3 linked regions of the Homo sapiens genome follow. The protein of the gene in region 2 interacts with the protein of the main gene of each other region in a pairwise test. Each region holds a gene or a part of one and is shown on either strand. Other genes may lie near its edges.

The links.
Region 1: the proteins of ZBTB8A (region 2) and ZGPAT interact in binary tests that used the Homo sapiens proteins (3 or more experiments, as listed by UniProt).
Region 3: the proteins of ZBTB8A (region 2) and KIF9 interact in binary tests that used the Homo sapiens proteins (3 or more experiments, as listed by UniProt).

Annotation. Positions count from the first base shown.
Region 1 is NC_000020.11:63,711,035-63,714,785, forward strand, and holds part of ZGPAT (zinc finger CCCH-type with G patch domain-containing protein), read left to right. Parts: intron 1-3,751. UniProt on the Homo sapiens protein: Transcription repressor that specifically binds the 5'-GGAG[GA]A[GA]A-3' consensus sequence. Represses transcription by recruiting the chromatin multiprotein complex NuRD to target promoters.
Region 2 is NC_000001.11:32,591,352-32,595,102, reverse strand, and holds part of ZBTB8A (zinc finger and BTB domain-containing protein 8A), read right to left. Parts: intron 2,173-3,751; 5' UTR 2,172-2,172; coding exon 1,349-2,171; intron 50-1,348; coding exon 1-49. UniProt on the Homo sapiens protein: May be involved in transcriptional regulation.
Region 3 is NC_000003.12:47,248,062-47,251,812, forward strand, and holds part of KIF9 (kinesin-like protein KIF9), read right to left. Parts: intron 2,566-3,751; exon of another isoform or gene 2,456-2,565; intron 26-2,455; coding exon 1-25. UniProt on the Homo sapiens protein: Essential for normal male fertility and for progressive motility of spermatozoa.

The sequences.
Region 1 (3,751 bases), on a different chromosome or scaffold from region 2:
TTTTTTTTTTGAAACAGCGTCTTGCTGCTCTGTCACCCAGGCTGGAGTGCAGTGGCACAATCTCGGCTCACTGCAATCTCCGCCTCCCTGGCCCAAGCCATCCTCCCACCTCAGCCTCCCTAATAGCTGATACTACAAGTGTGCACTGCCACGCCCAGCTAATTTTTGTATTTTTTGTAGAGACGGGATTTCACCATATTACCCAGGTCTCGAATTCCTGATCCCTTTGATGAGAGATCTGACACATCCCTGTGGTGCTCCCTCTGGGCCAGGCACTGCTCCAAGGGTTTCATATACTTTCATTCATCTGTGCAACAGCCCTGTAGGTAGGCCCTGCAGTCACACCATCTGACAGAGGAGGAAACAGGAGTAGAAGAACTGAGTGGTCCAGGGCTTCAAGGCTCAGAGGGCTCCGGTTGCCCCCAGCCCTCGTTCCGTCCCCTGCTCCACCCAGTGCTGCTTGCCATGTCGGCATCAGGCCTGATCTGAAAGCTTCCGGAGCATCTTACAGACGTCCACCTTGCCACCATTCAGGACTGATAAGTTCTCTTGGATTTGCGTTGGACCTTTTTTTTTTTTTTAAGATGGAGTTTCACTGTTGTTGCCCAGGCTAGAGTACAATGGCATGACCTCCACCTCCTGGGTTCAAGGGATTCTCCTGCCTCAGCCTCCCAAGTAGCTGGGATTACAGGCGCCTGTCACCACGTGGTGCCCAGCTAATTTTTATATTTTTAGTAGAGGCAGGGTTTCACCATGTTGGCCAGGCTGGTCTCGAACTCTTGACCTCAGGTGATCCCGCCTTGGTTTCCCAAAGTGCTGGGATTACAGGCATGAGCCACCACACCCGGCCCAGGATTTCTTTATATATTCTGGATATCATCCCTTATGAAGTATATAGTTTGCAGATATTTGCTCCCATTGTTTGGGTTGTCTTTTCACTTGATATAGTGTCCTTTGATGCACAAACATTTTAAATTTTGATGCAGTGCAATTTATTGTTTCTTTATTGCCTATGTTTTTGTCATCAGGTTTAAGAAACCACCTCATCCATAGTTATGAGGATTTTCACCTATGTTTTCTTCTAAGAGTTCTGTAGTTTTAGCTGTTAAATTTAGGTCTTTGATCCATTTTGAGTTAATTTTTGTATATGTTATTAGGTGAGGGTCCACTTTATTCTTTTGCATGTGGATTTCCAGTTTTCCCAGCACCATTTGTTTAAAAGACTGCTTTTTCTCCACTGAATGGTCTTGGCACTTTTGTCCAAAATCAATTGGCAATATATGTAAGGGTTTATTTCTGAGCTCTCTCTCCTGTTCCATTGGTGTATATGTGCCAGTACCACACTGTTCTGATTATTATAGCTTTGTGATAAGTTTTAAACTCAGGAAGTGGTAGTTATTCACCATTTGCTCCTCTTTTTCAAGTTTGTTTTGTTTCTGGATCCTTTGCAATTTCATATGAATTTTAGGATCGGCTTGTCCAATTCTGCATAAAAGACAGTTTGAATTTTGATATGGATTGCATAGAATGTGTAGATCTGTTTGGGGCACATTGTCATCTTTACAATATTAAGCCTTCTGGCTGGGTGTGGTGGCTGACGCCTGTAATCCCAGTACTTTGGGAGGCTGAGGCGGGCATATCACTTGAGGTCAGGAGTTCAAGACCAGCCTGGCCAACGTGGTGAAACCCCGTCTCTACTAAAAATAAAAAACAAATTAGTCGGAGGTGGTGCACACCTGTAATCCCAGCTACACGAGAGGGTGAGGCAGGAGAATCGCTTGAACCTGGGAGGAGGAGGTTGCAGTGAGCTGAGATCATGCCACTGCACTCCAGCCTGGGTAACAGAGGGAGACTCCATCTTAAACAACAACAATAACAGAAGAAAAAAACAGTATTAAGTCTTCCAATTCATGAATGAAGGATCTGTCCATTTATTTACGTCTTTAATTTCTTTCAACAGTATTTTGTACTGTTCAAGTCTTGCACATTCTTGGTTAAATAAGTATTATTTTTGATGCTTCTCTAAGGAATTGTTTTTCTTTTCCTTTTTTTTTTGAGACAGAGTCTTGCTCTGTCACCCAGGCTGGAGTGCAATGGCACAATCTTGGCTCACTGCAACCTCTGCCTCCCGGGTTCAAGCAATTCTTCTGCTCAGCCTCCCAAGTAGCTGGGATCACAGGTGCCTGCCACCACACCCAGCTAATTTTTTTTTTTGAGATGGAGTCTTGCTCTGTTGCCCAGGCTGGAGTGAAGTGGCCCAATCTTGGCTCACTGCAAGCTCCACCTCCCGGGTTCACACCATTCTTCTGCCTCAGCCTCCTGAGTCGCTGGGAATACAGGTGCCTGCCACCACGCCCAGCTAATTTTTTGTATTTTTAGTAGAGATGGGGTTTCACCATGTAGCCAGGATGGTCTCGAACTCTTGACCTCAGGTGATCTGCCTGCCTCGGCCTCCCAAAGTGCTGGGATTACAGATGTGAGCCACTGTGCCCGGCTGGAGTTGTTTTCCTTAGTTACATTTTCAGGCTGTTTGTTGCTAGTATATAGAAATACAAGCTGGGCACCGTGGCTCACGCCTGTAATCCCAGCACTTTGGGAGGCCAAGGCGGGTGGATCACCTGTGGTCAGGAGTTCGAGACCAGCCTGGCCAACATGGTGAAATCCAGCCTCTATTAAAAATACAAAAATTAGTCTGGCATGGTGGCAGGTGCCTGTAATCCCATCTACTCAGGAGGCTGAGGCAAGAGAATTGCTTGAACCTGGGAGGCGGAGGTTGCAGTGAGCTGAGATCGCGCCATTGCACTCCAGCTTGGGGAACAAGAGTGAGACTTCATCTCAAAAAAAAAAAAAAAGAAATACAGTGGATTTTTTTATGTTAATCCTGTATTGATTGCTGAATTGGTTTATTAGTGCTAATAGGATTTTTTATGCACTATTTAGGATTTTCGATATATACAATCATATATATTCAATATATACAATTAATATATATGTGAATAGAGATAATTGTAGTCTTTGTTTCTAGTTTGCATGGCATTTATTTCTTTTTCTTGCTTAACTGCCTTAGCTAGAACTTCAAGTACAATGTTGAATAAAAGTGACTAGAGCGGGCCGGGGGTGGTGGCTCACACCTGTGTTCCCAGCACTTTGGGAGGTGGAAGTGGGCAGATCACTTGAGATCAGCAGTTTGAGACCAGCCTGGCCAACACGGCGAAACCCCATCTCTACTAAAAATACAAAAATTAGCTGGGTGAGGTGATGTGCACCTGTAGTCCCAGCTACTTGAGAGGGTGAGACATGAGAATTGCTTGAACCTGGGGGGCGGAGGTTGCAGTGAGCCAAGATCATGCCACTCCACTCCAGCCTGGACGACAGAGCAAGAACCCTGTCTTTAAAAAAAAAAAAAAAAAAAGTGGCTAGAACAAACATCTTTATCTTGTTCCTGATCTTAGGTGGAAAACTTTTTTGTTCCTGATATTAGGTGGAAAACTTTTAGTCTTTCACTGTTGAATATGATGTTACTTGTAGGTTTTCTGTAGATTCCCTTTATCGAGTTGAGGAAATTCTCTTATATTCATAGTGTGTTGAGTGTTTTTTATCATGAAAGGGTGTTGATTTTTTTTTTAAAGATAGGGTCTTGTTCTGTCACCCAGGCTGGAGGGCAGTGGCATGATCATGGCTCACTGCAACCTCGAATTCCTGGGCTCAGGGGATCCTCCTACTTCATCCTCCTGAGTAGGTGAGACTACAG
Region 2 (3,751 bases):
ACCACATGTGTGCAGTACGGGCACTTGAATCGCATCCGAGGCAGATCATCTGTCAAGAGACGCTTTGATTAAATCACTGGAAAGTTCATAACAATTCTAATAACAGAAAGAATCCAATCCAAGCCCAATGGAAACAAGGAAAGAAAAAAATAAACTTAAAAAAAAAGAAATAAAAAGAATTCACAAGGAGTTGGTTAGCCCAAAAAGTAAGAGACGAAAGAAATTTTATTAAGACTAGATTGTCAATGTAATCCTAAGTATGGAACTTTAACTTCGGTATTTGATATATTTAGAAAGTTGGGTAAATTCAGACTGCTATGCTTTTTTTTTTTTTTTTGAGATAGAGTTTCGCTCTGTTGCCCAGGCTGGAGTGCAATGGCGCAATCTCCACTCACTGCAACCTCTGCCTCCTGGGTTCTCCTGAAGCGATTCTTCTGCCTCAGGCTCCTGAGTAGCTGGGATTACAGACATGCGCCAGCACTCCCAGCTAATTTTTGTATTTTTCGTAGAGACATGGTTTCACCATGTTGGTCAGGTTGGTCTTGAACTCCTGACCTCATGATCTGCCCGCCTCAGCCTCCCAAAGTGCTGGGATTACAGGCGTGAGCCACTGTGCCCGGCCTGTATTTGTATCTTAATAAGCTAAATACTCCTCTGAGTAAGTACACAGGAAAAAAAAAAACTATTTAAAGTGAAAATATGTGTCTCAGGGATTGAACTATTTAGAAAAGAGCTTTAAACATTTAAGAGTAATCTAACCACCCACAGATACAGGTTTGGAAAATCATGGGTTTTGACCCTTAGTATTCTTATTATTTTGATTGTCATTATATTTATTCAATATTATTTTGAATTAAAAAATTTAAATCCACGTTTTATGAAATGAATTTCTTCTTTTTTTGTTTTTTTGAGACAGAGTCTCACTCTATCGCCCAGGATGGAGTGCAGTGGTGTAATCTCAGCTCCCTGCAACCTCCGCCTCCCGGGTTCAAGTGATTCTCCTGCCTCAGCCTCCTGAATAGCTGGGATTACAGGCACACATCACAATGCTCGGCTAATTTTTTTGTACTTTTAGTGGAGACGGGGTTTTGCCATGTTGGCCAGGCTGGTCTCGAACTCCTGACCTCAGGTGATCTGCCCGCCTCAGCCTCCCAAACTGCTGGAATCACAGGCGTGAGCCACCACGCCTATCCTTACTAAATAAATTTCATTACAAAAATAGAACTTTTGAAAAAAATCACTTGCTTCAACTGCTTAGAGCACCTGAAACTAAGGGTGTTTTGACAGTAGACTGATTAATATAGCAGTTTGGAACCTGGATGAGGGGACTTATGCTCTTTTTGGGTACCTGGAAAGCTTTTGGATGTGACATCAGATCCTTGACCGTACTGATAGCCAACAGGAGTAGAGTCCATTTCAGCATCAATCTGTGCTTGTTCTTCAGACTGGGAAACATGGCTGGAAGAATCAGATGTTCGTACTTCTCGTTTGCTTGACTTATAATGAGTAACTTCAGAAGGCTGTGACAATCTCAAATGTTTGGTCTTTTTAATGGACTCTTTCCTTGGTTCATGCTTGGCCAAGGGTTGTTGAGTATTCTTCTGGGAGGCTGGATGATAATTATACTTATTCCAAGATTTTCCACTTATTATACCTGTTCCTTGCTCTGGGCTTAGGTGAGAACGTGGAGAACTGCTTCCTTCTTGCCAGCCACCACTATAAAAAGAGGAACGTTCTACACCATTAGAATTGGCATCTTTATCTGAGAGACTGAAATAGCGATCTTTTTCTTTCTCACTAATGTCTAAGGAAGATTTAATAAAAGTCTTACATACACTTATGACATCAGTCATCTGAAGGAAGCTAGCAGCCGACATCACTTCTATGACATTCTGACCAGTAAGAGACAGTTTGCCAGAATATACGAAGTCCAAGATAACTGTAAAAGTGTCAGGGGAGAAAGCCTGAAATGTAGCTGTGGTTGGCTGACTCGTCTCCTTTGAATTCTGAGAAAGAAGCATTTTAAAGTAGCCGCTACTAGCGAATAATACATTTCGATGTGCTTTGAAGACCTTCCCTTCAACTAGAATACTGCAGTCACAAAATACATCTTGCCTGCGCTGCTCGTTCAGTTGCTGCAGGAGGTGAGACTGATGAGAGGAGATCTCCATTCTGAAGAGGAAAAGACACATGTGGTTACCAAAACCTACATTACAATTATTTTATTTTGTTTTGAGACAGGATCTTGCTCTGTGGCCCAGGCTGCAGTGCAGTGGTGTGATCAAAGCTCACTGTGGCTGGGCACAGTGGCTCACTCCTGTAATCCCAGCACTTTGGGAGGCCAATGCGGGGGAGATCACCTGAGGTCAGGAGTTCGAGGCCAGCCTGGACAACATGGCGAAACCCTGTCTCTACCAAAAATACAAAAATTAGCTGGGCGTGGTGGCGGGTGCCTGTAATCCCAGCTACTCAGGAGGCTGAGGCAGACAAATCGCTTGAACCTGGGAGGTGGAGGTTGCAGTGAGCCAAGATCACACCACTGCACTCCAGCCTGGGCCACAGAGCAAGACTCTATCTCAAAAAACAAACACCCCAAAAACAAACAAACAAAAAAAGCTCACTGCAACCTTGAACTCCTGGTTTCAAGTGATCCTCCTACCTCAGCCTCCCAAGTAGCTGGGACTACAGGTGTGCACCACCATGCCTGTTTTTTTTTGTTTTTTTGTTTTTAATAGAGATAAGGTCTCACCACGTACCCGAGCTGGTCTCCAACTCCTGGGCTCAAGCAATCCTCCTGCCTCAGCCTCCCAAAATGAACAATCCTTTTCTAAGGTGAGTCAACTAAAATAATAATCAGAAGCCTCTTTTATTCCATTAAGAACACTTTCTTGTTGGAGAATATAATCGCCAAGACACAGAAGATAATAGGTTTCAACATATCACTTAATACTAGACTGTTATCAGCCAGGCGTGGTGGCTCACGCCTATAATCCCAGCACTTTGGGAGGCCAAGGCGGGCAGATCACAAGGTCAAGAGATGGAGACCATCCTGGCCAACATGGTGAAACCCCGTCTCTACTAAAAATACAAAAATTAGCTGGGCATGGTGGTGCGTGCCTGTAGTCCCAGCTGCTCGGGAGCTGAGGCAGGAGAATCGCTTGATCCTGGGAGGTAGAGGTTGCAGTGAGCCGAGGTTGCGCCATGCACTCCAGCCTGGCGACAGAGTGAGACCCTGTCTGAAAAAACAAACAAACAAACAAACAAAAAACAAAAAAACAACTAGACCGTTATTAGATTTTAGAAAATTACTTGTTTTATTAGCAAAATTTATTGAGCATCTTCTTTCATTTTTTAAATATAGAGATGAGGTCTATGTTGCCCAGGCTGGTCTTGAACTCCTAGGCTCAAGCGATCCTCTGGCCTCAGCCTCCCAAAATGCTAGGATTACAGGCATGAGCCACTGCATCCAGCCAAGCATCTTCAATAAATCAGGCCTTCTGCTATATGCTGAACCAACACATTTGATTTTTGCCTTCATGTTGTTTTCAGTCTAAAAGTGTTATCAGACATTAAACAAAGACTCCAGCCCAGGGTGGTAGCTCACGCCTATAATCCCAGCACTTTGGGAGTCAGAGGCAGGAGGACAGCTTGAGCCCAGGAGTGTGAGACCAGCCTGTTCAACATAGCAAGACCCTGTCTCTACAAAATATATATATATATTTTAATTAGCCAGGTGTGATGGAGAACACCT
Region 3 (3,751 bases), on a different chromosome or scaffold from region 2:
CCTTCTCCAGGTTCTTGACCATTCTCTGCCGGGAAACATGGTAGGGTGGGGGCCGACAGGAAGGATCATCAGAGAAGCTACCCTGTCTCTTCCACAGCAAAAGTACAATTCCTCATTCTGTGCCCAGACATCCTGGCCATTCCTGGATCCACAGGGTATGCTTTCAGCTTCTGGTGATTCCCTCCCGACTGGTGACTCTTCCCTAACTGGGGTGAGTTTAGGGTCTGGGAGGACCTGAACAGTCCCCTGGCCTTTGCTACTGCCAGTAGAAGAGACAGCACAAGCCACACAGCCACCTCAAACCCCAACTCCCAGGGGCCCCAGGCTCCTTCCAGTCTACCAGGATAATGGCCCTTTTGGTGCAGCCTACAGACTCCAGAATGCTTTCTTTTTTTTTTGAGACAGAGTTTTGCTCTTGTCGCCCGGGCTGGAGTGCAATGGCATGGTCTCAGCTCACTGCAACCTCCGCCTCCCGGGTTCAAGTGATTCTCTTGGCTCAGCCTCCTGAGTAGCTGGGATTACAGGTGACCGCCACCACACCTGGCTAATTTTTATAATTTTAGTAGAGACAGGTTTTCACCATGTTGGCCAGGCTGGTCTCGAACTCCGGACCTCAGGTGATGCACCCACCTCAGCCTCTCACAGTGCTAGGATTACAGGCATGAGCCACCATACCCAGCACCAGAATGCTTTCTTTTTAGAGAAAGGCTCTTGCTCTGTCCTCCAGGCTGGAGTGCAGTGTCACCATCATGGCTCACTGAAGCCTCAACCTCCTGGGCTCAAGCAATCCTCTCACCTCAGCCTCCTGAGTAGGTCATGCTACAGGTACACACTGCCATGCCCAGCTAATTTTTGTAGAGACAGGGGTCCTACTATGTTGCCCATGCTGGTATCACACTCCTGGGCTCAGGCAATCCTCTCGCCTCGGCCTCCCAAAGGGCTGGGATTACAGATGTGAGCCACTGTGCCTGGCCTCCAGGATGCTTTCTATGCATGGTTATAACCTCATCCTTTCACCCTCATCCTCACCAACCACTGCATGAACATGTCACCACTCCCCAATAATAATCATGTATGTCACCTCTAATTTTTTTTTTTTTTTGAGATGGGGTCTCGCTCTGTCGCCCAGGCTGGAGTACAGTGGCGCAATCTTGGCTCACCGCAACCTCTGCCTCCCGGGTTCATGTAATTCTCCTGCCTCAGCCTCCTGAGCAGCTGGGATTATAGGCATGTGCCACCACGCCCGGCTAATTTTTGTATTTTTAGTAGAGATGGGGTTTTACCATGTTGGCCAGGCTGGTCTCGAACTCTTGACCTCAGGTGATCTGCCCGCCTCAGCCTCCCAAAGTGCAGGGATTACAAGCGTGAGTCACTGTGCCTGGCCTCACCTCTAATTTTTTGCTGCTTACAAACAATGCTGCAAGAACATTTTTGTACTCATATATTTATGTCCTCATAGATTTCTGTAGAATAACACAGTGATCTATGAGGCTTTTGAGATCTGCCCCCATTACCTCTTTTCTGCTTCTCTTCTCTGGTGCACTCCAAACACTTCCACAAATTGGTATGCTTCTGCCTCTGCATTGCTTGTCCGCTGCCCTGGAATTCTCTTCTCCTAAGTATTTCCAAGACTCATTCACTTACCTCCTGATAATCTTTGTTCAAAAGCTTCTAAATTAGGTGCACCACAATTACTCTTTAAAATTGTAATTCCAGCCAGGTGCGGTGGCTCATCCCTGCAATTCCAGTACTTAGGGAGGCCAAGGCAGGTGGATCATCTGAGGTCAGGAGTTCGAGACCACCCTTGTGAAACCTTGTCTCTACAAAAATTACAAAAATTGGCCAAGCATGGTGGCATGCGCCTGTAATCCCAACTACTAGAGAGGCTAAGGCAGGAGAATTGCTTGAACCCGGGAGACAGAGGTTGCAGTAAGCTGAGACCGCACCATTGCACTCCAGCCTGAGCAATAGAGCGAGTCACTGTCTCAAAAAAAAAAAAAATTGTAATACCTTCTCCACCCCTGCAACATGCTTTAAAAATCTCTAATTTTTTTTCATAGCACATTTTGCCTTTTAACATATTCTAGATTAGTGCTGTCCAATAGCACTTTCTGCAATTATTGAAATGTTCCATATTTGTGCTGCCCGGTATGGTAATGATGAGACAAATACAGCTACTGAACACTTGAAATGTGGCTAGGGTGCCTGAAGAAGTAATTCTAATTTTAATTAAATAGCCACATTTGAGTAGCAGTTACCGTATTAAACAGTGAAACTTTAGAACTTACCTATTTATTGTGATTATTATTATGTATCTCCCCTATTCCCATCAGACTGCAAGCTCAGAGATTTGTGTTTCTGTTCATGCAGTCAGGTATTCCAAGTGCTTTAAAAAGCACTTGGCACATAGTAAGCACTCCATAGATTTTAGGTAAGTAAATAAATGATACTTTTTTTTTCAGATCAGACGGGTAATGTGCCAATGTCGTAACAAGGTTCAAGGGTGGCACATCTCACACAAGCGTATGAACACACAATCATCACACTCATGAACTACAAAAGGATCATAAATGACACATTTTGAGGAGAAGAATCGCTAAGTCATTTTATACTCGATATACCATCTGAGTGTCTTCCCTAAAAGAGGCACAAGGAACTTCAAGCTGAGAACCCTCGCTGTGAACAATAGGACTTCCTTTAGTTGTCATAAAAGGGCCACTGGAGGGAGCCCCTGACACCTGGATCCTGGGACTGGTGACCAAAACTGTGACCAGTCCACTGCCCCACTGGCCCTCTCCCAGACCAAAGGCCTGCTGTATTCTAGCCCTCATCCAACCAGGTCACCTGGGCACTGAGGCCCAACTGCCCTCACATAGCAAGGGTCAACAGAACCCCTGGCATCCTGATGGCTCTGTGGCAATTCAGGCACAAAGCCTGGGACCCAAGGCATGTGACCAGTGTCCAGATCCTGGATCTGCCCCTCTGGAAGCCCCACAAAGGTCCCCTTCAGGTGTGGACTTCCTGTGGGGTCAACAGGAGAGGCTTGCTGGCCAGTCTCACCTGTCCACATGCCATCCTTCTCCCAGCTCTAGAAAATGTATCATGGCCCAGCTACAGAAAGTTCGACTGAGCCATCAGGGTCCTCCAGCTTGATGACTCTGTTCAGTGAGGCACAGCAGAGCCAAACTTACATGTCTGGGCCAATCAGAAGGTGATGTAGGAGGCTGGGTGCAGTGGCACATGCCTGTAATCCCAGCACTTTAGGAGGTCAAGGCGGGCAGATCACTTGAGGTCAGGAGTTCAAGACCAGCCTGGCCAACATGGTGAAACCCCATCTCTACTAAAAATAAAAAATAGCTGGGTGCGGTGGCACATGCTTGTAATCCCAGCTACTCAGCAGGCTGAGGCAGGAGAATGGCTTGAACCCGGGAGGCAGAGGTTACAGTGAGCCAAGATTGCACCACTGCACTCCAGCCTGGGCAACAGAGTGAGACCCTGTCTCAAAAACAACAACAACAAACAGGGACATTTTTTAGATAGGAAAAAAATGCCTTGGAAACAGCACAGACTCATGTAAGTTTCCTAATAGGCATTTTCATTATAAATGTAATGAGGATAATTCAGAGAATTCTGCTTAAGCTGCACATCAGGCTGTGGGGCAGCTCTTGGGGCAGGCAGTTTTCCGATTTTCATCCCACTGCAGCTTGCCAGTGTATCTTCTCTTGGCAGAGTGGAGTATACTAAGTCTCTC